4 linked regions of the Homo sapiens genome follow. The protein of the gene in region 1 purifies or fractionates together with the protein of each later gene. This does not show direct contact. Each region holds a gene or a part of one and is shown in the gene's direction. Other genes may lie near its edges. The genes, in order: MINDY3, ZC3HC1, RNF25 and RPUSD3.

Region 1 (7,619 bases):
TGGTTTTCCCCAGTTCAATGCAGAAATAATTCATACACCATCTTTGCTCCTTTATAATGTTTTGCCTAAATCATTAATAAAACTAACATAAGAATAGTATTTTTCAATGCTTGTAATTCTTTCGTGCCTAATGTTCCCTATTAAATATCACAATCGCTGTATGATACAATTATTAATAAGATCATTTTATGAATGTGGTAACTGAGCCTGAAAGAGAGTATTTATTCATTCTATCACAATCAAGAACATTAAGGAATGAGCTTTTTGTAGATCATGGCACCATTCACTGATATATGAAACATTGAGAGTAAAGCAGGGTTTGTGGGAAGAGTCATGTTTAATTTGGCACATATTAAGTTTGAGGTGCCTATGACACATCCAAGTGTGTAAATATTATATGGTTACTTTATATAGCTAGTCTTGTGTTAATGTACAAGTTGGAATTTTATCTTCTCATTTCATAATGTTAGCACAAGTGCTAAAATGGCAAATGACCTCTTTTATTCTATGTCTTAAAGAATAATGCCATAATTATTTCTCTATTCCATACACGTTTCCGATATTCTTTTTCTCCCCATTATCCCCATACATTTCAAGTTAAAGACAGCCACTTTTTAGAATCATAGAAGTGTACAGGACCTGCAGTGAATATGACCTTAAGAAGTAACCTATATTTAGTTCTCTTATTTTACAGATGAAGAAAGCAAGGTACGGCTAGTTAAATGATTCACCCAACATCACACTTACTGCCCATATGGGGACTAACATTCAGATTTTCTAATTCCATTTCAAGAGACGATTTCATTAGACCCCTGATTCCCTAACAGTATTTTGCAGAACATAAATTATATAAGAAGTTCAGTGAATGAAATGATTCAAATGTGTCTGTTAACATTAAACACAATCCCCACTCCTGGAGAGTTGCAGTGAATGACCTGTTTAAATTTATTTAACCCAGCATTTAATGACACTTCCCCTTTACCACCATGTATTAATGTCAGTAGGAGATGCAATGGGGAGTGCTACACTATGCCACCCTTGAATATGATGTTGGTGAGTCTGAAAGGGACTTGTTTGCTCAGCTGGACAAGTATTATCCTGCTGAGATAAGGTTAGGATGATGCAGAAGGAAGTAGTTTCATTTGCTTTGGTAGATTTATGCTGCTATTGGAAGGCAGAGGACATACAAATGAAAAAGTTTTAGTAATAAATGAGTATGGGATTGTTTTAATGACCCACCTAAATGTTATTAATCTTATGACAGGGTGAGTTTTTGAAATATTTGATTTCTTCTAGGTAAGGAGTAATGTAAATACACTAAATTAGGAGTCCAGGGTTTCCAACTGGAGAATTGTACTTTTCATGTTAGTTGCTAGGAACTAGGCAATAAAGTTGTTGTGCTTTTATCTGGCAAAAAAGTTTGAGGAAAGACAGGAAAATAATTAAACAGAGTTAGAGTTTAATGCTGAGTAATTAATTTTGTTGCCTGAAGTAGTAAAGATGGATAAAAAGAATTCATTATAATGGAAATCTCAGCCCAGTTTTATGGAAGCACCCTGACTTGAATTTGAAAGAAACAGAAGTATTATTAATAAAACTTACATATAAATAGGAAGTGAAAGATTATTAATGCAACCTATATACACCTCAGTGATACAAGTTTAATCGAAACCATAGACAGTCCTGAGAAAAACAATATGCTAAAATATGAAGTGTTATAAATACATGAAAGAACATTTACATAATTTTCCAAGTCATTATAACAAGAGAAAGGCATTTTCATCCAGCACCAGGTATAGATGCAAAACGTGATTCACTTAAATATTTATTTATAGATAATTACTGAATAAGAACAATTTTGATGAATATTAATTTCTATTTAAATGTTATACCTAATGAATAATTAAGCCAATAATTTAAAAGTAAAATATTCCTTGTTAAAGATATGTCCTGCTAATTAAAAAATTTAAAAGATTACACATAAAAATTATAATGTGGGCCAGATGTGGTGGCTCACGCCTGTAATCCCAGCACTTTGGGAGGCTGAGGTGGGTGGATCACCTGAGGTCAGGAGTCGAAGACCAGCTTGGCCAACATGGTGAAACCCCATCTCACTAAAAATACAAAAATTAGCCGGGCATGGTGGCGGGTGCCTGTAATCCCAGCTACTCAGGAGGCTGAGGCAGGAGAATCACTTGAAACTGGAAGGTGGAGGTTGCAGTGAGCCAAGATGGTGACACTGCACTCCAGCCTGGGCAAAAGAGCGAAACTCCATCTCAAAAAAAAAAAAAAATATAATGTGGAAGTGGAAAGGACATTCATATAAATGTCTATCCAGGATTTTGCCAGCATCACTGTAGCTGGAAACTAAGAAAAATCATAGATCAAAAAATTTCTCGTTTAAAAAAATACAGTTTGAAAGTACAATTTTTTGTTTTTTCATAACAAAGTAATCAAACTTATAACTACTATCTATATTAATGTAAAGGAAACAAATGTAGTGTTATATACACTACACCATTAATATTTACATACATTAATGGAGAAAGTCAAATGTGGAAACACTTCTGAACTTAGAAGTCTGCCAGTTATGAGCTCTATGTACATAGACCCTTCTGTGTCTTTCAGGAAGTGGAAGAATTACGTAAATTGTAATCAGCATGCGAATATTAGATATTTAACTGGAGCAGTCAGTACTACTTCCCCGATCTCTCACTTGCTGAGAGATAATGAATTCTTTATTTCCAGTAAAGGCAAGTTTTGTTCCTTGGAATCGTAATTATTGAGATCCAGTGATGTTCAAGGCCCCATGCTAGAATTATGAATAGGCAGCTCTTTGCTTCCATAAATTTATATCCCAAGAGAAAAGCAAATAACTCTTTGCAAATACAATGATGATAGGAATTGTCATAAGCAAGTTACACATAAGGTACTATGAAGCCTCAGAAATTATAATTATTACTTTCAATTGTAATGACTGGAGAAAGTTTGGCATGCACACTCTGACATGAAGGATAGGTAAGATTTGATTTGCAAAAACAAGGCAAGGGATATTCTAAAGGGAATAAAGATCAAAAGGAATGCTATGGCTCTACTACAGGCACTTTGGGCAAGTCCCTGTAATTACAGTAAAGGGTACTGAAGAAATAAAATTAAATTAATTAAAATAAAATTAGAAATAACGTATAAATAGGAAAAAATAGCTAGTAATAAAGCATAAATTAACAAAACCTTATTTGCAATCTAAAAGATTTTAAATTAAGGGTTAATTTTAATTAGCCAAATGCAAGGGTATTCTACAATGAAACTGCATGTTTTTGAAATTAGAGAACATAACGTATTATACTAAAATACAACTGGCTAGAATTTATGGGTAAAAAAGTCAGAACTACTGTTGCATCAAATTCCCACAAAATGGCTTCTTGAGGTAAAAAAAATACCCACTGTTGCATAAATGCCTTCCATGTGCTAGGAAGTACACCAAATCCTTTGTATGTGTTACTTTTTCCATTTATTCCTTACAATATATGAAATGTATGCAATCTCCCTTTTAGAAAGAAAAAAGCCTAGGTAGATAGTAGGTAACTTGCTAGTAAGTGCAAAAGGTAGGAATATGGGCCAGTATGACCCACAGCTTGGCCTCTTAACTATTGCATTACTGCATCCCAAAGTAATATGGTTTCCAAGGAGTACAGAAACCTTACAGAACCAAAATAAAAGCATGTATTTTTTTTTAAATCAGATTTTGCCCTTTCGTTTTAAATTCAAAGCTCGGGCAATACAAGCCCTCTTTTTTTAAGCAGCACAAACATAAGTTTTCACATGAACTCAATTTAACTGCTAGTTAATGAGTAAAACCTAAACTTTAGTCCAGGTGTTGCCCACACACTCTGCAGTGTCAAAAACTGGAGATGAAAATGCTGTAACATTTACAAACAGGTTGCTCTGAATTTGTTTCCCTACAAATACCTTGTAATTCTGCGTTGCAGCTGGTGGAAGCATTTCTAATGCACATTATGCCACATTCTTTGCCATGTTTTTAGGTAATAGTTGGTCTGACTTTGATTTATTGAAGTACAGAGGCGGACAGCCTCCAGCTTATGAGAAGCGCCCTACAAAGGCACGGATGTTACCGCACTGTGACTCAACTATTGCCTTATAGTTCTAGTTTTGCAAAATTAATATTGAAAAATACAAGCAATGGGCATATGTTCTAATTCCTAGTGCCTGGGCCTCAGAGCCTCCAGCTTAGCCCAGAGCAGTGCGTAGAGGAAGAAGGTATTCCTGGAGTTTAGAAACACGCCGACGCCCCTTCCCAATACAAAAACTACCACCCCACCAAAGGGTCCCAGACAGTTCAGAAAGGTCAGAAGCTACTTCCACCGCTTTCCGTGCCTGTTTCCGCCTCCAATTTCACTTCCGGGGAGGGGACTTCCGGGCCCTCAGCCTTAAGGGGCGGGAGTTAAAGAGGAGTCGGAAGTGGCACCAGCACTTCCGGTACGGAAAACTCGCTGCTGCCCCAACCTGGCTTGACAGGCTTGGTCTCTGCAAGTGGCTCTCAGCCCCTTCTTCTTTCCTGCCTCACCTTCCAATTCGTTTGCCGCCGCCGTCCCGCAGCTGCTGTTTCCGGAGTTGCCCCTTCCCCATGTTCCGGGGCAGGAGTCCGCAAAGCGAAGATCCGCCCGCCGGTTCCTCATCATGTCCGAACTGACTAAAGAGCTGATGGAGCTGGTGTGGGGCACCAAGAGCAGCCCCGGTCTCTCGGACACCATTTTCTGCCGCTGGACGCAAGGTACCCTGGCGGGGCTCTCACACTTGCAGCCGCTGCTTCTTTTGCCCTGCGAGAGTCCGCCTGTGACGCCTCTCGCTCCAGCCCCTCGCGTGCCCCGCTCTCTGCCCCAGTCGCCGTGCTCAGCGCTGAAGCTGGACTTTCTAGACACGCCCTGCCTTGCCTTGGTGGGGAGAGTTTGAGTAGGAGAATGGTTACAGCTGCCACTAAATACCCGCAGCGCTCTTTCCATCCTCCGGGCTGCCCTTCGGCTGGGGAGGAGGAGAGGGTGGCCCCTTGCTGGGTTGCAGGGCGTGACACGGAAGATGCGCCCCGTGCCCCGGTGTCACTTTCTCAAGGGGTGCTGTGGCCTTCCGCATCTTTACCCCCTAACAGAGCTGTCTATTGGTGGTGGTTGGTCTATTTTTGGTGAGAAGGAGGGACGTCCAAGGGAAAGTCCAAGTGGCTAATTCCAAAAAGCAGTTTTTTGTTTGTATTGTCATTATGTGGTTAGGCGTGGTAGTCTGTGTATAAACACTGTTATTTGCTAAAAAGTGTACTCTTGGCCCAAAGTATCCCCGTTTTTTATATGGTTTATTATCTGTCACGGTTAAAAAAGGAATATGGATCATAGTACTTCCTCGGCCGGTATGCTTGTAACCCAGACAGGACTTTTACTTACATGAAGAGTCTTAGTACAAATAATAATGAAATAAAATAAGCATTTATTGAATTCTTGCACTGTAACAGGCTGGGCGCTTTATACTAGTAACTATCCCTAATTCTTAAGTTTGGATAGGCAAACAACTGACACATTCCTAAAGGTGACTTAGGAAAGATGATGATGAGGTTAAAACATAACCTTGAGTCAGAAGGATCAATAATTTATGTATGTAAAACACTATTATTATTAAAACATCTATTTAGGGAACACCTGTTCCCGAAATAGATTGGGCGGAATTTTGGCATAGTAAATATAAACCCCTATTTCAAAACGTGTATTTTGTAACAAAAATTCAGGATTTACGTAATCTCTCCCTCCCTCCCACATGTTTGTTTTAAGAGCTGGTAAAATTACAATTACGATGTATTGTTAAGTTGGGATATTTAGTCCCTCACTGTTGCTTTGCAGGCGAAAAAAATTAGTTGTAAAGGTAAATGACTGGGCCAAAGTTGCACAAATCGATAGAACTGGGAGTGGATTCCAGGTCTCTCGATTCCTAATATACCTCTGTTTTCATTATCTTCCTTTGAGTTCCCAAACCCTACATGTAATGACTTGGGCTCTTTTTTTTCACATTCAATTATGTCAGTTACCTAATCTTGGGCTTCTTAGAGGGAGATTTTATTTTAACACTTCCCACTTTGACTTACTTATTCTAATAGTAAGCAGCTCTAAAATACTGTGAAAGACTAAGAAAAAATTTACTTCCATTGTAATCAGTTAACATTTATTAAACATTTTACAAAGTAGAATAAGATAATATTCAGCCCTGTTTATATTTATACTGTAATGCAAATACAAGGAAGATTCAGGGTGGCAGTTCTAGTAATGGTTAAGAGCACAGTCTGGAATAGATGTACTTGGTTCAGGTTCATGTGATTTAGCTTATTTAAGCCTCAGTTTCCTTCTCTGTAAAGTACAGATAATAGACCTTACAGAGTTATTGTGAGGATTAGAGGCCATGTAAATAATTTAGGTGCTTAGCACACTATCTGACGTATAGTGAACACTCAGTATATGGTAGCTGTTTTTATATTATTTTAAAAAGTGTTTAATTGTAGACTATGCCAAATTCACTCTTTGGCTTTTTCCTGACAATTACAATAAGTTGTTTATTTGATGGCTAATCATTATTCTAAATAGAACTTTATAATGACTTATTAGAACGCTCTGCCACCTTTAATCATGCAGAAATTCTTTAACAGGATTAGTTCCATCAGTACCATTTCAAAATAAAGGATTTCTTTCTTTTTTTCGTTTACAGGGTGCAGTTAGTTATATTTTGGATATGTAGCTCTTCAAGGCCTTACACTGATTAAGATTTTAAGGCAACCAAACATATATTTTTGAAGTTATCGCCTCTGAATCAGAGGGGTCCTGTTACTGGTTTTGATATGTTAACTGTTGTATTCATTTGTTTGTTCTTTGAGGCCATTGCTAAATATTGCTGTGGCAGTCCTTTGGGATTGTGGGAACAGGCACAAGACACTGCTTTGCTGCATTACTAATGTGACATCAACTCTGGCTTTATTTCATAGTCTGTGATCGTGTCTTCAGTTGACAACTGCAGTCTCATTAGTTTTCTGGAAGCAAGATACAGATGTAAGATGTTTGGCATGAATATTTATACAATTATGTCTAGAGATATTTCATCTATAAAATTATATTGATTGATCAAGTTAAATTCTTTTGATATGGTTGTTAAAACAATAAGCTGCAGGAGTGGCACATAGTTGTTTTTAATTGGCTTGACATTTTTAGATAATTCTCTTCTACAAATCCCTGTTCGTTTTAAAAAATGCGGGGTGTTTTTTTTCTTCTTCTTTTTTTGGGCAGTTTTAATTTTAAAGGCAATAAGCCATGTAATTTAAGGGCTTAAAGTTGGCAGGGTTTTATTTTAACGTGAAAATTTATTCTTCTCTCTGCTTTCCTCCTGCTCAATTGCCTATAGTACTTTTTAAAGAATAGCATATAATTTTCACTTCCTTAGCTCATTAACACTATTTATCCTCCCCCCTTCCCACAAACTACACCAGTATTCCAAGCTCTTACAGTTGAGAGTCAGTAGGGTGGGAGGGAAGACAAACAGTAAATATAACGTAGCATAAATTACACATGTACAATAAA
Region 2 (7,611 bases), on another chromosome or scaffold:
TCTTTTTTTTTTTTTTTTGAGACGGAGTCTCATGCTGTGGCCCAGGCTGGAGTGCAGTGGCACAATCTTAGCTCACTGCAACCCCACCTCCCAGGTTCAAGTGATTCACCTGCCTCAGCCTCCAAAGCAGCTGGGATTACAGGTGCGTGCCACCACACTCAGCTAATTTTTTTTTTTTTTGTATTTTTAATAGAGACAGGGTTTCATCATGTTGGCCAGGCTGGTCTCGAATTTCTGACCTCAAGTGATCCACCCACCTCAGCCTCCCAAAGTGCTGGGATTAAAGAGGTGAGCCACTGCACCCAGCGCTAGGATAGATAATTTTTGAAGGACCTTTGCCGTAAATAAAAGCAGAGAAGGTGTTTTCTTGTTTTCTGAAATAGAGTCTTGCTCTGTTGCCCAGGCTGGAGTGTGGAGTTCAGCGGCACCACCTCGTCTCACCGCAACCTCCACCTCCTGGATTCAAGCGATTCTCATGCCTCAGCCTCCCAAGTAGGTGGGACTACAGGTGCATGCCACCACGCCCAGCTAATTTTTATATTTTTAGTAGAGACAGGGTTTCGCCATTTTGGCCAGGCTGGTCTTGAACTCCTGACCTCAGGTGATCTGCCCCCCTTGGCCTCCCAAAGTGCTGGAATTACAGGCATAAGCCAGTGCACCTGGCCTGTTTTGCATGTTTTTAAGATGGGAGAAGTAATATCTTGCTGCTAATGGAAATGTGCAGTGGAGGGGAGAATTGGTGGACAATGTTCTTGAGTAGGCAAGGGGAATTAGATCCAATGTGTAAGTTTGGCCTTAGATAGGCACATAGATTACAGCAGGGCTTCTCAACCTGTGCACATATTGGGTGAGATAATTTTTTGTTGTGGCGAGGCTGTTCTGGATGTTGTAAAATGCTTAGCAACATTCCTGGCCTCTATCACCACTCCAACCAAAAATGTCTCCTGACATTGCCAAGTGTCCTGTGGCAGGCAATATCACACTCATTTGAGAACCACTGATCAATAGTAACAGGAGGGAAGGTAAAGTACGGTTAGAGGATGATGAGAACACCATTCATCATGCGAAATAAAAACACAAAGCCGGCCGGGCACAGTGGCTCATGCCTGTAATCCCAACACTTTGGGAGGCTGAGGCAGGCAAATCACGAGGTCAGGAGATTGAGACCATCCTGGCTAACACAGTGAAACCCCGTCTCTACTAAAAAAATACAAAAAATTAGCCATGCGTGGTGGCGGGTGCCTGTAGTCCCAGCTACTCAGGAGGCTGAGGCCACAGAATGGGGTGAACCCGGGAGGCGGAGCTTACAGTGAGCCGAGATGCGCCACTGCACTCCAGCCTGGGCGACAGAGGAAGGCTCCGTCTCAAAAAAAAAAAAAAAAAAAAACCACAAAGCCAAATTTCTTGCTTACTATAAACAGTAAGAGCCATGCAGGTGAGGCACAGTCTTCAAGCAGACCAGACTACTAATCTATCAGACTTTGAGAAAGTGGGGAGTTCAGAGATTGGCAAACTTTCAAAGGTGTGTGTTAGCATCATTTGTAGAAGTGATAACTTGGGTGAAACTATTGTTGAGTGGCTGGCACTCAGAGGAGTGCTTATTGAAGTGAGTCTTTGTGATTGGCTGAATCAAGAAGTTGTCATTCATTGGGTTTACAAAAACACATTCACTGTGATGAGTAATCATGGGTCAATTGAACTTAAAACTGGCTCTGATTGCTGGTTGTTACCATGGCTAACTGTACAGTCAGTATTTTCCTAGGAGTGTGTCATTAGCAGAAAGGGAGGATGGATAAGTGGAAGTATTGAAGGTGTTTGAGGAGAGAGGTATATAATAGTCATCTATGAAGGTGGGTGCAGTGGCTCACACCTGTAATCCTAACACTTTGGGAGGACGAGGTGGGCAGATCACTTGAGGTCAGGAGTTCGAGACCAGCCTGGTGAATGTGGTGAAACCCTGTCTCTACTAAAAATATAAAAATTAGCCAGGTGGCCAGGCATGGTGGCTCACGCCTGTAATCCCAGCACTTTGGGAGGCCAAGGTGGGCGGATCACCTGAGGTCAGGAATTCAAGACCAGCCTGGCCAACATGGTAAAACCCCGTCTCTACTAAAAATATGACAAATTAGCCAAGCATGGTGGCAGGTGCCTGTAATCCTAGCTACTCAGGAGGCTGAGGAAGGAGAATCGCTTGAACCCAGGAGGCAGAGGTTGCAATGAGCCGAGATTGTGCCACTGCACTCCAGCAGGCAGCAGAGGGAGACTCCGTCTGCAAAAAAATCAAAATAAAAATAAAAAATAAATTTAAAAAAATAAAAAATAAAAATAAGTCATCTATGAAAAGTGGGATGAGAAGTGGACTAGATAAAGGTAGTATAATTACTGGGCAGAATTAAGGTCCCACTTGAAGTCAAGAATATAAAGAGACAAGTTTGTCATTTCTCTTTAGCCATATTTAGTTGTATGGGTACAGAAGCAATAATAGAGAACTTACTTCAACTGTGATTGAGGTTTTGTCAAGTAAGTACTATTAAGCAAGAGAGGTTCAAGGAAATTCAAAGGGTATTCAAGAACATGTATTTTTTAGCTTATTTATTTTGCTTTTTATTATGATATTGTCAAACATACTTAATAGCAGAAAGAATAATATAATGAATCCCACAATTCTATCATCCAAGTCCGACAGTTTAAAATTTTGCAATATTTTTTCATCTATTCCTCCACATGTTTTCCTGGATAACTTCAAAGCAAATTCCAAACATCATATCAATTCACCTATAAACACTTCAAGATGCATTTCTAATAAAGAAGGGCTTTTAAGAACCATAACTACAATGCCATTATTACATATAGTGAAATCAACAATGTTTCCTTCATATTAACTAAGTCTCAACCCATGTTCAAATTTTGCAAAGGGATGATGATAACAATTAGTAATGAATTTAAGCTGGCTAAGAAAAGAAGAAACAAGGGTGGTGGTGGAGTTAGGAAGAGCAGAAAGGTAATTGGATCAATAGGTTGCAGGTCCTGCTGCTGGGAACACTGATAGAGTTAGGAGCCCACAGGTAGGGTGCTGGAAGGGTAGGAGGTGATCCCACTTTCCTCTTTGCCCATTGTTTAGTCACATCAGTCTTCCAACCTGGGGTGTTGGAAGATTCTGTACAGATTTCTTCCCTTCAATCTCATCCGTCTCAGCTCCAGTACCTGATTTTTCTCAGGAGAATGTGCAAACTAAATTAGATTCTCCTATTATAACCTTGGTACATCCTTGGAGCACTTGTAATCATAATTTTAAAACTATAGGAAAATTTGACATCTAACTCCACCAAGATCTACAGCTTCTTTGCTCACGACTGTCATTGCTAGTGCCTAGAGACTATCAATAGGATGCTTTCGGCCGGGCGCGGTGGCTCATGCCTGTAATCCCAACACTTTGGGAGGCCGAGGCGGGCGGATCACCTGAGGTCAGGAGTTCAAGGCTAGCCTGACCAACATGGTGAAATCCCGTCCCTACTAAAAATACAAAAAAAAAAAAAAAAAATTGCTGGGCGTGTTGGCGAATGCCTGTAATCCCAGCTGCTCGGAAGGCTGACGTAGGAGAATCGCTTGAACCCGGGAGGCAGAGGTTGCAGTGAGCCGAGATCGCGCCATTGCACTGCAGCCTGAGCAACAAGAGCGAAACTCCATCTCAAAAAAAATAAATAGGACGTTTTCAATAAATATTTGTTGGACTAAGGAAGGAGTATCAATAGTGTCAAATGCCACAGACTTCTAAATCCATCCATAACACGGTTTCCAACAAGGATTCTAAATTATTTGCTCTCCAATGAGGGTCACCATTTCCTCGCTTGTAGAAAGGTGCAACTTAGGAGGGTCGTATGAGTTAATTTATTTTTATTTTTATTTTTTTTGAGTCGGAGTTTTGCTCTTGTCGCCCAGGCTGGAGTGCAGTGGCGCAATCTCGGCTCACTGCAACCTCCGCCTCCCGGGTTCAAGCGATTCTCCTACCTCAGCCTCCCTAGTAGCTGGGATTACAGGCGCCCGCCAGCAAGTCCAGCTAATTTTTGTATTTTTGGTAGAGATGGGGTTTCACCATGTTGGCCAGGCTGGTCTCGAACTCCTGACCTCAGGCGATCCGCCCACCTCGGCCTCCCAAACCGCTGGGATTACAGGCATGAGCCACGGCGCCCGGCCGTATTAGTTAATATTACTTGAAAATTAAGTTGAGCCCCTCATCCCTGCTGAATTTGGACTGACAGCGTTCTAAAAATCTCTTATCAACCTAAATATGCTAGTTGATAAAGGAAACGATTAATCAAGATTGTCCTAAACAGTACAGCCCTCCTTAAGCTCGCTCTAAGGTTCTAAAATGATGAGAAAAGGCGTGGGCCCCGCGGTTAGACTTTCCCAGCCAGGCTGCCTCAAGAGGCGGATATTAACCTCCCAGGACGGAAGTTCCGGAGCCTTCAAACTCTCGGGGAAGCAACTCGGCAGCGGACCAAGATGGCGGCGCCCTGTGAGGGACAAGCGTTTGCCGTAGGGGTTGAAAAGAATTGGGGTGCAGTAGTTCGCTCCCCAGAAGGGACCCCCCAGAAAATCCGGCAGCTGATAGATGAGGGGATTGCCCCGGAAGAGGGAGGCGTGGACGCGTGAGTTCACGAGTTAACCCTGGGTCCGGCGTTGGAAGATTGAAGAAGGCTTGGGGAAGGGGTGGCGGGTTGGGGGAGGTTCCCCTCGGTCGGCGACTCGGGCAGTGGGGATGGCTTCTTAGAATCTGAAAGAAACTCTGGTTACTATGTTTGATCGGCTTTGATCTTCCCCTCGGGGTGTACCAGATTCCCAACCGCAGCCGAAATTTTGTCATCGGACATTATTTTTGGAAGTAAAGAGGACCGTTAACTGAATGAGTTCACTTGACTTCTCTTAATTGGGGATTCTTAACCTTTTTTTGTGCCGTGGACCCCTTTGGCTCTCTGGAGAAGCTTATTAACTCTCAGAATATTTTTAAATGCTTAAAGTAAATTACATAGGATTATAAAGGAAACCAGTTAGATTGGAATGTAGTTATCAAGATGGTAAAAGGAAAAAGTTACGCAGTAACAATGCTTTTTATTAAAGAGTCCATAATATCTAGTAGTATGTGTTGTCAACCATAATTTTGAAGTAGTGATGAGCACAAAGGTATTTGAAGACATGCAACCACCATAATGTGGGAACATTATTTCCATTGGTGACAAATTAGCAGGTACTGCTAATACTACTATGGTGTTTTTACCTTCATTCATAATTGAAGAAAATGCTAAATCTTGTCATTTAGAGAGAAATAAATGTCATTTTTACCCATCCAAGTTTATGGATGCTGTGAATTTTTTTTGGCCTAGAACCACACCCGCTTGAGGCTCTCTATGAATCTCTGAGAGTCTTAGAGTAAGTTTATTTCTTTTGAGCTATAATCGTTGATGTAATCCTATTTTTATTAAAATAATGCCTGTCGCCGGGCGCGGTGGCTCACGCCTATAATCCCAGCACTTTGAGGAGGCTGAAGCGGGCAGATCACGAGGTCAGGAGATCAAGACCATCCTGGCTAACACGGTGAAACCCCATCTCTACTAAAAATACAAAAAATTAGCCGGGCGTGGTGGCCCGCGCCTGTAGTCCCAGCTACTCGGGAGGCTGAGGCAGGAGAATTGGTTGAACCTGGGAGGCGGAGGTTGCAGTGAGCCGAGATCGCGTCACTGCACTCCAGCCTGAGTGACAGAGTGAGACTCCGTCTCTAAATAAATAAATAAATGCTTGTCTTTCAGCAATTCCCCAGGCACTGTTGAAATGCCTTCCACTGAAAATGAGAGAATTGCTTTGCTGAGTTTTTTTCTCCCTGATTTTTTTTTCATGAAATCTCCCGAAGATCTTTGATTCGAATTTTCTAATTGGTTCTTTTTTTTTTGGAAGGAGTGGGTATGAAAGGTCCCTCCAGGTAGAAATATCAAAATTGTTTTTTCTGCTGTTAAGAGTCGAATTTCTGCCAGGCGCTGTGGCTCACGCCTGTAATCCCAGCACTTTGGGAGGCTGAGGTGGGCCAATCACAAAGTCAGGAGTTACAGACCAGCCTGACCAACATGGTGAAACCCCGTCTGTCCTAAAGATACAAAAAATTAGCCGGGCCCACGCCTGGTGGTACGCGCCTGTAATCCCAGCTACTGGGGAGGCCGAGGCAGGAGAATTGCTTGAACCTGGGAGGTGGAGGTTGCAGTGAGCCGAGATCGCACCGTTGCACTCCAGCCTGGGCAACAGAGCGAGACTCCATCTCAAAAAAAAAAAAAGTCGAATTTCTGAAGAGATTCAAATTGTATAATGCATACTTGAAGTCTTGAGTCTTATTTTCTGTCTACTAAAGTTATGCCAAATACTTGTGGAGAACAGTGAGTGAGTGAGGAGAATAGTTTGCTAGGATTAGTGGAGCCCTGTAGAGGTAGAAATTGAAGTTTAGATATGGGTAAACTGTAAAGAGTTTTGAATGCCAGACTGAAAAATTTGGATTTTATTTAGTAAGTATTATAAAACCATTGAAAATAATAAGCTGAGGAATGACATGAGTAAAATGATTTTTAGGAAGCTTAAAATCCAGCGTTGGTGTGATTTATGATACGATGTGTAGAGAAGCTAGATAACATTTAAGCAGAGGGTACTGTGAAAGGTTTACCAACAGTTTTGCCACTTTATATTAGGAAGGACACGTCTGCCACATCCCAGTCAGTTAATGGATCACCCCAAGCGGAACAACCTTCATTGGAATCTACAAGCAAAGAAGCCTTCTTTAGCAGAGTGGAAACATTTTCTATATCCTTTTTTAGTTCATGTGAATTGCACTTTCTGCCTGCTTCTAGAATTCCTCCAAGGTATTACACCACTTACTGTGATGCTTTAAACTTAAGAATAAAACCTTGGTAAGAAATTATATAGGAAAGTCAGCATCCTAATATGTTATCACTCAGAGGGACAGTTGAGGTTATCTAACCTTTTCTTTTTACAGAAGAAAAAACTAAGAGCCTGAGAAAAGAAGAAATAATAACTAATACTTGTATATAGTATGTTTTTGTATATATTATCACATTCGATCTTGACCTTAAACCTATGAAAATAAGCATTATTATTATACTTGTTTTACAGAAGAGGAAACAGTTTGGGGCAGGTTATATGACTTGCCCAAGATGAACCTGTTAGCAAATGGCAGATCCAGGATTATAATCTAATGTTTTTTAGATTATTAGAGACTACACTACTATAATGTCTCTTTCTAGATTTTCCTTTGTGTATTAGCTACCTATTGCTGCATAGCAAATTGCCCCAAAACTTAGTGATCTTAAAACAACAAACAGTTTTTATTTCATAATTTCTGTGGATCAGGAATCCAGGCATGGCTTAGCTGAGTCCTCTGGCTCAGGGTCTCTCACAGACTGCAATTAAGGTTGGTCAGGGCACTGTCATTTCAAGGCTCAACTAGGAAAATTGTCTCAAAAGAAAAATAAAATAAAATAAAACAAAACAAAACAAAATTAGCCAGGTGTGGTGGTGCTCACTTGTAATCCCAGCTACTCAGGAGTCTGAGGCAGG
Region 3 (6,062 bases), on another chromosome or scaffold:
TATACAGACAGGAAAAAAAGAGGACGTAGACTAGCTACGATAGCCCAGATACTATTAGGTACTTTATGTAAACAAATCACCTTTTATCCTCACAATAACCCTAGAGAGTAGGTGTTATTATCTATATGTGACAGACAGGATAACTTAAGCTTACAGAGAGGTCACGTCCCAGATTGCATAGCTTGTAAGTGATTGGTACCTGTTAACTAACTCCGAGGCTGCTGGCTCTTCCATTACAACACAGCCTTTATACCACCCTAAATATGTTGTGTTGAGGTTGCTATCTCCTTTAAGAAGGCTTAGGGTGACTGGTGTTAAAACTGTATGTAGACAGTAGCCAAGGCACTGGGATCCACACTGGACAGTGACGTAGGGAAAGGTTGGAGTAATATTGGTAACGTTAATGCTAATGAATGAGTGCCATATCTCTAGACCAGAGATTCAGCCACTAAGGGGAATGAAACTTAAACAGGGAGTCAGGAAACCTGGCTCTGGGCCTAGTTCTACCTATGTTAAGCCTTGGTTAGTCATTTTACTTCTCTAGAATCCACTTCTTCATCTGTTGGCAGAAATGATGCCTAAAATTCTGATTTCCATGCCTTCTATTTGGCCAGTTGACAACTTAAGGTAACATATTCCTTGTTTTTAAGGAGTTTAGCAGGAGAATGCATTCTGGTAGATTGCCATTTTTCTACAAAGCCTGCCTTTATTGGCCTTAGCAGGCTTCCACAGGGAGAGCTGTAATGGTAAGTTAGTCTACTCCTGTCTCTCTAGGGTCCTTCCCTCTGAAGTTGAAGTATTGGAGTCCATCTATCTAGATGAACTACAGGTGATTAAAGGAAATGGCAGGTATGTATTCAACCAGTGGTGGGCAGGAGTCCCCCTAGTAATGAGGAGAGGTTCTATGCTGAATTTGGGTCTTAAGACATTGTGAGCCTTGATTCAGAGATAATATTTCTCTTGTGTAGACAAAAGCTATTCCTTTAATCCTACCCCAAAAGAAAGAGTCCAATGTGTACTTCCTTTGCCCACTTCACTGTCTCAGCCCCATCCTCCCCAGCCCCCAAGCCCCTACCCAGTCACATCTGCGTGTCCACTTGATCCACCTGCAGAACTTCACCATGGGAGATCTACATCACTTTGCATCCTGCCACTGCAGAGGACCAGGATTCACAGTATGTCTGCTTCACTCTGGTGCTTCAGGTCCCAGCAGAGGTGAAGCCCCTACTGTGTGGCAGCAAAGGGAGGAAGGGGAGAGTCCCTGGGGTGGACCGCTTCAGCAGTAACTTGTTATTTGCCCCCACTAGTATCCCCATGAGGTGCCACAGATCTCTATCCGAAATCCCCGAGGACTTTCAGATGAACAGATCCACACGTAAGTTGAACCTGTCAGAACAGGGAAAACTCAGCTACAGCTTTGCCCGGTGACAGAAATGGGCAGGTCTAATATTTGGTTTGCCCTCTTCCTCCAGGATCTTACAGGTGCTGGGCCACGTGGCCAAGGCTGGGCTGGGCACTGCCATGCTGTATGAACTCATTGAGGTAAGAGGTGCGCTAGTCTGAGATATGTTCTTTCCTTCAAGCTAGAGCAGTTTCTAGCTGTAAAAGGGAAACCATGGGCCTAGAATCTTAAACGGATCTGGAGTCATTAGGTAAGGCCTAAATTAATCCAGAGAAATGAGACTCTTCTATTTGAAAAACTTCCCAAAAGACAGTTCAGTAGCTTCTCCAAGTTGCCTATGCCAGCATCTTGACAGAAAATGACTTTTCCTCTTCACCTTGAATTTTTCTTGCATCAGTTTCAGTATATGTCTTGTTCTCTTGGCACTGGCAACTGAAAGTGGCAAAAGATACGCATCTTGCTTGGGGGCGTCTTAGCCATAAATGAACATTTGAAGGCTAGACTGCCATTGGACCTGACTAGAAAAAGTCATGGTTGGCCAGGCACGGTGGCGGGCATTTGTAATCCCAGTTACTTGGGAGGCTGAGGAAGGAGAATCGCTTGAACCCGGGAGGCGGAGATTGCAGGGAGCCAAGATCATGCACTGCACTCCAGCCTGGGCAACAGAGTGAGACTCCATCTCAAAAAAAAAAAAAAGAAAAAGTCATGGTTCCTTTACTGAAAGAGCTTATACACTGCTTGATGAAACAACCCACATGAAGCAACACCTGAAGCTCCAATATACACAGAAAACTTTTATTGTTTGAGATTAAAAATATAAAATTAAGTACAGTTTTATTTTCCCCTAGTTTGTTTATTTATTAATTTTAATTTTTTTTTTTTTTTTGAGACAGTCTTAGTCTGTCACCCAGGCTGGAGTGCAGTGGTGTGATCTCAGCTCACTGCAACCTCCGCCTCCCAGGTTCAAGTGATTCTCCTGCCTCAGCCTCCCAGATAGCTAGGATCACAGGCATGTGCCACCACACCCAGCTAATTTTATATTTTTAGTAGAGATGGGGTTTCTCCATGTTGGCCAGGCTGGTCTTGAACTCCTGACCTCAGGTTATCCACCTGCCTCAGCCTCCCAAAGTGCTGGGATTATAGGCATGAGCCACCACGCCCAGCCTCTCTTAGTTTAAATTTTTAAGAAAAATGTTCAGAATAGAATGAAGGTGGGTGGCTGAGAGTCAAAGAGAGTGGGTTTGATAGGCCACCGTAGCAGTCCTAGGTCAGGCCTCCACAATGCAGCCTTGGACTTTGTGGAATTCCAGAGTACACTATTAGCTATTCAAATAACAATTCAAATGCATAGTTCACAGCCCAACTCAATGCCTTGTGAATTCTCTGTCCATTTGGGTTGTCCATGCCTTGTCATGCTTTCTGAAAGCTGACTTAGAACAAACACATTGCCCCATGGGGGAGTGATATTGAAGGGGGCTAATCAAGAAAGGCCTCCCAGAAGATAAATTTTAATTGAACATTTTTTTTCTCAAGGTGTATTATTTTCATCTCCAAGATATATTAAAAGTGACTTAATGAAAGGAAAAACAATTAGGTTGAATTTTGAAACCAGGAAGATCAAATTTTGGGGGAGGGGCAGAGATGTGGAGAAGGATTGATTCCCAGCAGAGGGAGCGTCACCAAGCCAGAAATGCATAAACACAAGGTAACAAACTGGCCTGCTAGGAGCCAAGTCTAGCCAGTCACTCCTAGGAGTAGTAGACAGGCCTTGCTCACCGTTCTTCCCCCTACCCCCGTTTAATCAGTGTCTTCTCTCCTCAGAAAGGGAAGGAAATTCTCACAGATAACAACATCCCTCATGGCCAGTGTGTCATCTGCCTCTATGGTTTCCAGGTGGGTTTCTCTCTTGGGACCTGGCATTCTGTTTGGGACCAGCAGATGAGGGCTGTGAGAGAGCTCTGACTTAGTGCCCTACATCTGCCTTCCCTCTAGGAGAAGGAGGCCTTTACCAAAACACCCTGTTACCACTACTTCCACTGCCACTGCCTTGCTCGGTACATCCAGCACATGGAGCAAGAGCTGAAGGCACAAGGACAGGAGCAGGAACAGGAACGGCAGCATGCTACAACCAAACAGGTAGACCTCACTGCACCTGCACACTCATCTGACACCCTTAGGCACAGCCTTTCACAAACTTTTCCATCTCTCCACTCCAGTGGCTCTTCACTTTTTCAGGGTCATAGATACCCTTGAGATTAATGAACTCTTACCTCTGTCCAGAATAAAGGGCATCCTTTTTTTTTTTTTTTGAGATGGAGTCTCACTCTGCCACCCAGGCTGGAGTGCAGTAGCACAATCTTGGCTCACTGCAACCTCCGCCTCCTGGGTTCAAGCAATCCTTCTGCCTCAGCCTCCCGAGTAGCTGGGATTATAGGTGCGAGCCACCACGCCCAGCTGATTTTTGTATTTTCAGTAGAGACGGGGTTTCACCATGTTGGCCAGGCTGGTCTCAAACTCATGACCTCAAGTGATCCCGCCCGCCTCGGCCTCCCAAAGTGCTGGGATTACAGGCGCGAGCCACCGTGCCTGGCCAGGGCATCCTTATATACACTTACATATTGCATGCAGTTTCGGGGGGTTCCCAGATCTCTAGTTAGACAACCCGTGCTCTGTCCCAACTCACTGCTGAACCGGTGTCCCTGTGCCCTTTAGTCCCAGCCCTCTGCAGATTAGGTTGGCTGATGGGTCAGCACCAGGGGGCATCCTGGGCTGTGACACAGGCATATGATTTTTCTCTTTTTTAGAAGGCAGTCGGTGTGCAGTGTCCAGTGTGCAGAGAGCCCCTCGTGTATGATCTTGCCTCACTGAAAGCAGCCCCTGAACCCCAACAGCCCATGGTAAGGAGACTTTTTTCCAATCTGAGCCAGGAGTAATGGTATTTTCTAAAGAGTAAGGAATGGCATCTTGTCTGTGTCAAATGGGATCTCTGAAATTGGGCTTGAACTGCCTAGGACCTCTCTGCAAAGCCACATCCCCCACTGGCGGGAGCCTAAGACTCTGGGAGCCCAGACCTGAGGGGCAAAACCAGTGCAGATCTCCTGAGGCAGCCTGGGAGGAGTAGAGGTTTGAGTCAGCCTTCTGCTGTTCATTATTTCCTCTCTGCCATTCTTCCTTCCAGGAGCTGTACCAGCCCAGTGCAGAGAGCTTGCGCCAGCAAGAAGAACGCAAGCGGCTCTACCAGAGGCAGCAGGAGCGGGGGGGAATCATTGACCTTGAGGCTGAGCGAAACCGATACTTCATCAGCCTTCAGCAGGTGAGGGAAGGGCTTCCCAGTTGTCCTGTAATGCCACCAACCTTTCTACAAACCCCAATCAGCCATGGCCCCAGAGTGAGCTTTGTTCTAACCAGGAAGATGATAGGCTGATCGTGGTCAGCCCAGATAGTAGGAGAGGGGCCTGTAGTTCCCCACCTTGAGGAACTGCATCTCCCTCACTGCATCTTGTCACTTATTTCTAGCCTCCTGCCCCTGCGGAACCTGAGTCAGCTGTAGATGTCTCCAAAGGATCCCAACCACCCAGCACCCTTGCAGCAGAACTATCCACCTCACCAGCCGTCCAATCCACTTTGCCACCTCCTCTGCCTGTGGCGACCCAGCACATATGTGAGAAGATTCCAGGGACCAGGTCAAATCAGCAAAGGTTGGGCGAAACCCAGAAAGCTATGCTAGATCCCCCCAAGCCCAGTCGAGGTCCCTGGCGACAGCCCGAACGGAGGCACCCAAAGGGAGGGGAGTGCCACGCCCCTAAAGGTACCCGTGACACCCAGGAACTGCCACCTCCTGAGGGGCCCCTCAAGGAGCCCATGGACCTAAAGCCAGAACCCCATAGCCAAGGAGTTGAAGGTCCTCCACAAGAGAAGGGGCCTGGCAGCTGGCAGGGGCCCCCACCCCGCAGGACTCGGGACTGTGTTCGCTGGGAGCGCTCTAAAGGCCGGACACCCGGTTCTTCCTACCCTCGCCTGCCTCGGGGCCAGGGAGCATACCGGCCTGGTACTCGGAGGGAGTCCCTGGGCCTGGAATCTAAGGATGGTTCCTAGCAGGACTTGGTGGGGGGAACAGGGAATTGGGGATGGGAGGGAGGCAATAAAGATATTTGGCCTTCTTTGGCTTTCTTTGCTTAGCAGCGCCTAGCCTGTGAGGAATGGCTCTTTTTCTCAATTCCTAATAAGATTGGGGTGTGGCAGAGCAGCCCCCAACTTTGCTCTGAAGTCTGTTCTCCGAAGAGCTGGGTAAAGAGGGTCTGACATCTCATCAGCTAGTATAGTGAGTTTCAGGGAAAACTAGTGGGATGTCAGCATGTAAGCAGAGTCCTTAGGACCCACCGTTAACAACTCATTGTGTACACACCCATGCCTGTCCATTATTTATATACATAGAATGCCTTTAGGTAGAGGAATTTAGTTTCCTGTTTTGTGTCTCATCTCTTTATCTTAGGCTATGCCCCATCATTTGTATATGTGGTTGCCTGACTGACCCCTGTAGGCACCTGTGATTGCAGCCCGTCTTACTCAAGTACCAATCCAGTGATGAAGGGAGATGAGAGAGCAGAGTAGTGTGGCAGATGTTTATTGAGCTAGAGGAGGAGAGCTGAGCTGAGCCCAG
Region 4 (8,136 bases), on another chromosome or scaffold:
GGGTTAAGACGATTGGAAGTACTACGATTATAAATTTCATATTAATCCTTGTGTGCCTGTTTTGTCTGTTGTTCAAGTCTGCAGGTGTACCCAACAGCTCTGAAGAGACAGCGACCATCAAGAACGGGCCATGATGATGATGGCAGTTTTGTCGAAAAGAAAAGGGGGAAATGTGGGGAAAAGAGAGATCAGATTGTTACTGTGTCGTGTAGAAATAAGTAGACATAGGAGACTCCATTTTGCTCTGTACTAAGAAAAATTATTCTGCCTTGAGATGCTGTTAATCTATAACCTTACCCCCAACCCCGTGCTCTCTGAAACATGTGCTGTGTCCACTCAGGGTTAAATGGATTAAGGGCGGTGCAAGATGTGCTTTGTTCAACAGATGCTTGAAGGCAGCATGCTTGTTAAGAATCATCACCACTCCCTAATCTCAAGTACCCAGGGACACAAACACTGCGGAAGGCCGCAGGGTCCTCTGCCTGGGAAAGCCAGGTATTGTCCAAGGTTTCTCCCCATGTGATAGTCTGAAATATGGCCTCGTGGGAAGGGAAAGACCTGACCGTCCCCCAGCCCGACACCTGTAAAGGGTCTGTGCTGAGGAGGATTAGTAAAAGAGGAAGGCATGCCTCTTTGCAGTTGAGACAAGAGGAAGGCATCTGTCTCCTGCCCGTCCCCGGGCAATGGAATGTCCCCTGGGCAATGGAATGTCTCGGTATAAAACCCGATTGTATGTTCCATCTACTGAGATAGGGGAAAACCGCCTTAGGGCTGGAGGTGGGACATGCGGGCAACAATACTGCTCTGTAAGGCATTGAGATGTTTTATGTGTATGCATATCTAAAGCACAGCACTTAATTCTTTACCTTGTCCATGATGCAGAGACCTTTGTTCACGTGTTTATCTGCTGACCTTCTCTCCACTATTATCCTATGACCCTGCCACATCCCCCTCTCCGAGAAACACCCAAGAATGATCAATAAATACTAAGGGAACTCAGAGGCTGGCGGGATCCTCCATATGCTGAACGCTGGTCCCCTGGGCCCCCTTATTTCTTTCTCTATACTTTGTCTCTGTGTCTTTTTCTTTTCCAAGTCTCTCGTTCCACCTAACAAGAAACACCCACAGGTGTGGAGGGACAACCCACCCCTTCAGAAAGTAATAGTTTATTTCATTTATTTATATTTTTTCTCTCCTTTTCACAGGTGTTGAACAGTTTATTTTACTAATGCATGTGGTTTACCCCAACACATCCCAAATATCATGATTCCAACATGTGGTGTTGGCTGCATTTTCAGAGCTTGCAGTCATACGTCTTAGTCTGTTGGGGCTGCTGTGACAAAATACTGTAAATTGGGTCTCTCTAACAACAGCAATATAATGTTCACAGTTCTGGAGGCTGGCAGTCCAAGATCAGCTGGCATACAGGGTGTCTGGTGAGGGCCCACTTTCTGGGTCATGCCTGCCATCTTCCCACTGTGGTCACATGGCGGAAGGGGCGAGGGAGCTCTCTGGGGCCTCTTGTATAAGGGCGCTAATCCCAACCACAAGGGCCCCACCCTCATGACCCCATCACCTCCCAAAGATGCCACCTCCAGATGCCATCACCTTGGGGATGAGGTGTCAACACATGAGTTTGGGGGGACACAGACATTTGTTCATGTGGTAAGTGGCTCCAATGCTGGCCTGCCTCTGAGGCCTGGCCTCCTGGTGGAGGGCCGTGCAGGCACAGGGCTCTCGTGCACTGGGGTCCCCGGGGACACCTCCCACCCCTGCCCAGGCTCTACTTGGGAGTTGGCAGGTGCTGAGTCCTCTTGTGACCTTCTTAAGAAAGTCCCTCCTGGCCAGGTTCAGTGGCTCATGACAGTAATCCCAGCACTTTAGGAGGCCGAGTCGGGTGGATAACTTGAGGCCAGGAGTTCAAGACCAGCTTGGTCAACATGGTGAACCCCTTTCTCTACTGAAAATACAAAACTTAGCAGGGTGTGGTGGCAGGCGCCTGTAATCTCTGTTACTTGGGAGGCTGCAGCTAGAGAATCGCTTCAACCCAGAAGGCAGAGGTTGTAGCGAGCCGAGATCACGCCATTGTACTCCAGCCTGGGCAACAGAGCAAGACTCTGTCTCAAAAAAAAAAAAAGAAAGTCCCTTCTCTCAGAGCTCAGGGCTGATAACAGAGCAAGAAATGCATCCTCGGGGAGAGAGAGCAGCCTGGCCTGGCCTGGCCTGGGAAGGCTGGCTTCAACCATCAAAGACAGCTCTCACACCTCAGGCCCCAGGGCCTGGGGCTTGATCCCTGCATCCCCTCTTCCGCTGGCTGAGCTCTGTGCCTCAAGAGTGAGACTCCACCCTCCCAGCACTCCCTCACAAGCAGACCGGGCCCCATCCTGCCTCTGCTGACCCCCACTCCCCTGGGGCCTGCTCTCTGGGTCAGGACCCGCATGGAAACCAGGGGCAGGCCATCCCAACACCTCCCAGAGGCTGCCGGCAGCTCAGGCTGGTTTTCCTGTGACCAGTGCAAGTGTTCTTTTCAGTTATCTGACTTCCTTCCGGGGCATTCTGAGCCCACCCATAGCTTTTGGCATGCCTTTAAGGGACACAAAGAACCACAACAGCCACTGTGTCCTCATCTGTAAGGCAGGGCCCCAACCCACCCTGCCTTCCTCATAGGGGTGTGTAATGCTGGATGAAAAAGCCTATTAGAAAGTGTCCGTCAAAGGCCGGGCACGGTGGCTCACACCTGTAATCCCAACACTTTGGGAGGCTGAGGCAGGTGGATCACCTGAGGTCGGGAGTTTGAGACCAGCCTGGTCAACATGGTGAAACCCCATCTCTACTAAAAAATACAAAAAATTAGGCAGGTATGATGGTGCATGCCTGTAGTATCAGCTACTTGGGAGGCTGGGGCAGGAGAATTGCTTGAACCCAGGAGGCAGAGGTTGCAGTGAGCCAAGATCGTGCCACTGAACTCCAGCCCGGGTGACAGAGTGAGACTCCATCTCGAAGGAAAAAAAAAAAGAAGTGTCTGTCAAAGGCCCCGTGCGGCCTTTAATCCCAGCACTCTGGGAGGCCGAAGTAGGTGGGTGAATCCCTTAAACCCAGGAGTTTGATTTTTTAAAAATTATTTTGTTATTTTTATTTTCTTATCTTGAGCCCAGGAGTTTGAGACCAGCCTGGGCAACATCGTGAGACCCCATATCTTTAAAAAAAAAAAAAAAAAAAAAAAAAGCTAGGTATGGTGGTGCACACCTGTAGTCCCAGCTATTCAGGAGACTGAAGTGGGAGGATCGTTTGAGCCTGGGAGGTTGAGGCTGCAGTGAGCTGTGATTGTGCCACTGCACTCCAGCCTGGATGACAGAGCAAGCAAAAAAACACATTAGTGGCCGGGCACAGTGGCTCACGTCTGTAATCCTAGCACTTTGGGAGGCCAAGGCGGGCGGATTGCCTGAGCTCAGGAGTTCGAGACCAGCCTGGGCGACATGGTGAAACCCCGTCACTAAAATACAAAAAATTAGCCGGGTGTGGTGGCGGGCACCGCACCTGTAATTCCAGCTACTCAGGAGGCAAAGGCAGGGGAATCGCTTGAACCCGGGAGGTGGAAGTTGCAGTGAGTCGAGATCGGGCCACTGCACTCTAGCCTGGGTGACAGAGCGAGACTCTGTCTCCAAAAAACAAAAACCAAAACACATTAGGAAAATGTTCACACCAAACTCAAAGTGGAGACTGGGGAGGGAGTGAAAACTGGAAGCACGCAGTAAAGGGGAATTTACTTTTATCCCTTTCATTTCTTAAACAAGAAAAACAGGAAACCTATACATATATATATTGTTTCACAATGACTAATTCTGATGGTAGGAATGTGGGCAGTCATTATATTATTCTTTTTTTTCTGTGTTCTTCTACTTTCTTTTTCTTTTTTCTTTTTTTTTTTTTTTTGAGACGGAGTCTCGCTCGTCGCCCAGGCTGGAGTGCAGTGGCACGATCTCGGCTCACTGCAAACTCCGCCTCCCGGGTTCACGCCATTCTCCTGCCTCAGCCTCCCGAGTAGCTGGGACTACAGGCGCCCGCCACCACGCCCGGCTAATTTTTTTGTATTTTTGGTGGAGACGTGGTTTCACCGTGTTAGCCAGGATGGTCTCGATCTCCTGACTTCGAGGGGCCACAGGACTAGTAGAGCCAAGAGTTGAGGGTCCGGGTGGGGTGATCCGGCCGTCAGAAATGCAAAAGCCTGGAAAGACATCTCCAAAGGCCAATCTCAGGTTGGACAATCGTGAGCTGGGGAAGCTGCAAACACTGTGACCTCCGGAATAACCGCTGGTAATCAGTTACCTCTAACCCTTAGCAGAATTCAGGTCCCTCTACTACTCCTAACCTGGTGGCCTTTCATTAACTCTATGAAGCCAGTTTAGTTCGGGGGAAGGGCAATTATCATTTAGACTACGAACTAATTTCTCCCAAAGTTAGCTTGGCCCAAGCCCAGGAATGACCAAGGACCGTTTAGAGGTTAAAGGCAAGCTGCGGGTTGGTTAGATCAGATCTCTTTCGCTGTCATAATTTTGTAATATAATTTTTGCAAAGGCGGCTTCAGGTTTTTTGCTAAGACAGGTTTTTTGATCAGATCAAATTCTTCTGCTACAGCGCTCTCCCTAAAAGCATAGGAAGGCATTTCTGCATTTCCTTCCTGGGCGGAGGAAAAGCCCCGCCTCCTCAGGCTCTGAGTCCCGCCCGGTCACCATTCCGATTGACACTCCAGCTGACCAATCAGCGCGCTGGCTGGAGCGCGGGTCTGCCCCTCTGGACGCACATGCGCGCTGTCCTGGCTCGGGAGATGGACGGCCGCCGTGTTTTGGGCCGGTTCTGGAGTGGCTGGCGGCGGGGCCTGGGTGTCCGCCCAGTGCCCGAGGACGCAGGCTTTGGCACCGAAGCCCGGTGATTAAGTACCCCCTCTCTCATGCGGGACGGAGGCTAGGGCAGGGGGAAGGCACGTGCGGGATCTGGATCAGGTAGATGTTACCCGAAAACAGCCCCGTTGGCCTCTCTGAGCCTCGGTGCCCTCCGCTGTAGAATGGGACCGGTCGTACCTGAATTTTCGAGGTCAGCCCAGACATTGTGAGGCATTTGTCAGAGGCCGCAGGATTTGGGAAGAGGCGTCCGGAGATAGGAATGGGTGGCACCTCGGGATGGAATGACTCCCATTGCTTCTCCCTCCTTGTCCAGGCATCAGAGGCAACCCCGCGGCTCCTGCCAACGGTCGGGGCCCCTCGGGGACCAGCCCTTCGCGGGGCTGCTGCCAAAAAACCTCAGTCGGGAGGAGCTGGTTGATGCGCTGCGGGCAGCCGTGGTGGACCGGAAAGGTGAGGGGTGAGAGGCACGGCCGCACAAGGACCGGGAGGGGACTGCCTCGGCGTGCAGTTGGGCTCTCCATTGAAGCCACGGGATCAGCCCTGCTTCTGCCTCCCACTAGCAGCATGAGCTGGGACAAGCCACCTAATTTGCACCCTCTCCCCGCTTTTAACCCTACTGCCATGATGCAGTAGGGTTAAGAGTGGGGAGAAGATGCAAATAACTACCGAGCCTTGCACATAGCCGGCGCTCAGTTACGGGAGTTGCTATACTAGATTATTGTTTATTGGCCGCGGTGGCTCACGCCTGTAATCCCGGCACTTTAGGGTGCTGACGCGGGCGGATCACCTGAGGTCAGGAGTTCGAGACTAGCCTGGCCAACATGGTGAAACCCCGTCTCTACTAAAAACACAAAAATTAGCCAGGTGTGGCGGCGTCCGCCTGTAATCCCAGCTACTCGGGAGGCTGAGGCAGGAGAGTCACTTGAACCCGGATAGCAGAGGTTGCAGTGAGCCGACATCGTGCTACTGCGCTCCAGCCTGGGATGACAGAGCAAGACTCAGTCTAAATAAATAAATAAATAAATAATGATTATTTATCGACGGACAAAACACAGGCTTTGGAGTCAGACATACCTAGGCTCTGTGATCAGCTTGCTGTGCGGCTTTAGGAAAATAACTGAATTTCTCTGAACCCCACTCTCTATTCAGTGATTTATTCCTTTTCTCAACTATTTCTTGAACATATGCTATGTTCCAGGCACTGTTCTAGGCAGGCTATACAGTGCTGAAAAAGATAGATATGGTTTCTGCTCTCAGGGGAGAAATGGATTTCTCTCTAACGGGAGAAATGGATGTCAGAAAATAAATGAACAAGTTACTAGTGGTAAGTGCTATGCATAAACTAAAACAGGGTGTTATGATGGTGAGGAACTGCAGGAGGAAGGCAGACATTAGATTGGAGATTCAGACCTCTCCGTGATGTGACATTTGAGCCAAGATGATAGGGAGCCAGACCTGGGAAATTTGGGGACAGGAAACAGCAAGTGCCGAGGCTCTGAGGTGGCAGAGGAACAGAAAGAAGTTGAATTTGGTGTGGGGTAGTTAACTCATGTCTGAGAGTCATGATGGGGACATGTGCTAAGATGCGTGAGAAAGTGCTCTGGAAACTCTTTAGTGCTGCATAAAGGGTTACCGTTGCTTTTGCTGATGTTCGTGTGATGTATGTTTCAGGACCTCTAGTGACGTTGAACAAGCCACAGGGTCTACCAGTGACAGGTATGGGCCGGGGATGTGGGAAGGGAATGCAGCGGAAGGGGGTTTCGTGACTGAGGGAGGGAAAAGTGAAGGCATGAAGCTTTGGCCTCTTGTAATTTTTCTTTCTTACTTTCCAGGAAAACCAGGAGAGCTGACGTTGTTCTCAGTGCTGCCAGAGCTGAGCCAGTCCCTAGGGCTCAGGGAGCAGGAGCTTCAGGTTGTCCGAGCATCTGGGAAGTAAGTGGTAGGGGTGACAGGAAGCTAGGAGTACAGGCATCCATCTGTGGTGGGGAAACAGCTGCTTGGGGATAAGCTGAGACATTTTCCATGGGAAGGTTTGAGATCATAGAGGTGGATACAAGTACTGTGAAGAAGAGGAAGCCGATGGCTCTGGGTTCAAATCCTCAAGTACAAATGGTGTGATACCAGGCAAAGCATGACACCTCCCTGACGCTGGGCACAGTGACTCACACCTGTAATCCCAACACTTCTGGAGGCCAAGGCAAGAGGATCACTTGAGCCCAGGAGTTCGAGACCAGCCTGGGCAAAATAGACCCCATCTCTGGAAAAACAACAACAAAACTTTCCGCGTGGTGGCTCATGCCTATAATCAATAGGACTTTGGGAGGCCGAGGTGGGAGGATTGCTTGAGTCCAGAAGTTCAAGACCAGCCTGGGCAACATGGCAAAACCCTATCTTTACTTAAAAAACAAAATAAAACACACACACACACACACACAAAAACCTAGCTGGGCAGAGCAGCACATGCCTGTAGTGCTCGGGTGGCTGAGATGGGAGAATCACCTGAGCTCAGAAGATGGCAGCTGCAATAAGCTGAGATCCCGCCACTGTACGCAAGCCTAAACAACCTGAATGAGACCCCGTCTCAAAAAAACAAAACAAAACAAATACCCTCCCTGAGCTTCAGTTCCCCTAATGGTAAAATAGAGAAAATAATACCTATGCTCAGTGTGCAGTCATTTCTCCATGACGGTACTCGTGGCAGGCATTGCTAGTCGATCCATGATACTCTTTCCTCTAACTGCCATCAATTAAAGATGGTACTTGAGATGAAATATTTCTGCAGTTCCACAAACTCATGAGCTTTTTTGTAGAGAACTTATTTAAGAGCTAATATGTACAGAATTTCTAGTAGAATTCTGGCACATGGTAGACAATCGTTACGACATTTGGCTCTGAGTTCCCTGGGGGCCGGGGCAAAATGAGAAACACATTAAGCTACATAGTCTTGTTATCAAAGAAGGGGAAACCTTACTTGTTTCTCAGGAGTTGGTCTAGGTTATAGTCCTGGTGTTAGTGTTTGGCCTGAAGCAGGTCAGTGTTCCTAAGAGTTTCCTTTTTAGTGGGCGAGTTCAAGGGACTTTAACTTGTGTGATTTGTCTGCTTATTCCAGAGAAAGCTCTGGGCTTGTACTCCTCTCCAGCTGTCCCCAGACAGCTAGTCGCCTCCAGAAGTACTTCACCCATGCACGGAGAGCCCAAAGGCCCACAGCCACCTACTGGTGAGAGGTGCTGGGAGG

Evidence for each region.
Region 2: the proteins of MINDY3 (region 1) and ZC3HC1 purify together in Homo sapiens (affinity purification with mass spectrometry; 3 studies listed by BioGRID and IntAct, with this or other methods). This does not show direct contact.
Region 3: the proteins of MINDY3 (region 1) and RNF25 purify together in Homo sapiens (affinity purification with mass spectrometry; 3 studies listed by BioGRID and IntAct, with this or other methods). This does not show direct contact.
Region 4: the proteins of MINDY3 (region 1) and RPUSD3 purify together in Homo sapiens (affinity purification with mass spectrometry; 3 studies listed by BioGRID and IntAct, with this or other methods). This does not show direct contact.

The regions. Positions count from the first base shown.
Region 1 is NC_000010.11:15,857,379-15,864,997, reverse strand, and holds the start of MINDY3 (ubiquitin carboxyl-terminal hydrolase MINDY-3), read left to right. Parts: upstream 1-4,490; 5' UTR 4,491-4,698; coding exon 4,699-4,792; intron 4,793-6,197; exon of another isoform or gene 6,198-7,094; intron 7,095-7,306; exon of another isoform or gene 7,307-7,619. UniProt on the Homo sapiens protein: Hydrolase that can remove 'Lys-48'-linked conjugated ubiquitin from proteins.
Region 2 is NC_000007.14:130,048,259-130,055,869, reverse strand, and holds the start of ZC3HC1 (zinc finger C3HC-type protein 1), read left to right. Parts: upstream 1-4,495; 5' UTR 4,496-4,503; coding exon 4,504-4,649; intron 4,650-5,381; coding exon of another isoform or gene 5,382-5,427; intron 5,428-6,725; coding exon 6,726-6,837; coding exon of another isoform or gene 6,838-6,896; intron 6,897-7,611. UniProt on the Homo sapiens protein: Required for proper positioning of a substantial amount of TPR at the nuclear basket (NB) through interaction with TPR.
Region 3 is NC_000002.12:218,663,392-218,669,453, reverse strand, and holds the end of RNF25 (E3 ubiquitin-protein ligase RNF25), read left to right. Parts: intron 1-774; coding exon 775-849; intron 850-1,112; coding exon 1,113-1,215; intron 1,216-1,307; coding exon 1,308-1,375; intron 1,376-1,472; coding exon 1,473-1,542; intron 1,543-3,223; coding exon 3,224-3,295; intron 3,296-3,394; coding exon 3,395-3,538; intron 3,539-4,206; coding exon 4,207-4,299; intron 4,300-4,580; coding exon 4,581-4,715; intron 4,716-4,918; coding exon 4,919-5,497; 3' UTR 5,498-5,562; downstream 5,563-6,062. UniProt on the Homo sapiens protein: E3 ubiquitin-protein ligase that plays a key role in the RNF14-RNF25 translation quality control pathway, a pathway that takes place when a ribosome has stalled during translation, and which promotes ubiquitination and degradation of translation factors on stalled ribosomes.
Region 4 is NC_000003.12:9,840,680-9,848,815, reverse strand, and holds the start of RPUSD3 (mitochondrial mRNA pseudouridine synthase RPUSD3), read left to right. Parts: upstream 1-4,807; 5' UTR 4,808-4,825; coding exon 4,826-4,926; exon of another isoform or gene 4,927-5,062; coding exon of another isoform or gene 5,063-5,091; intron 5,092-5,214; coding exon 5,215-5,351; intron 5,352-6,572; coding exon 6,573-6,617; intron 6,618-6,733; coding exon 6,734-6,833; intron 6,834-8,010; coding exon 8,011-8,118; intron 8,119-8,136. UniProt on the Homo sapiens protein: Catalyzes uridine to pseudouridine isomerization (pseudouridylation) of specific mitochondrial mRNAs (mt-mRNAs), a post-transcriptional modification necessary for their translation.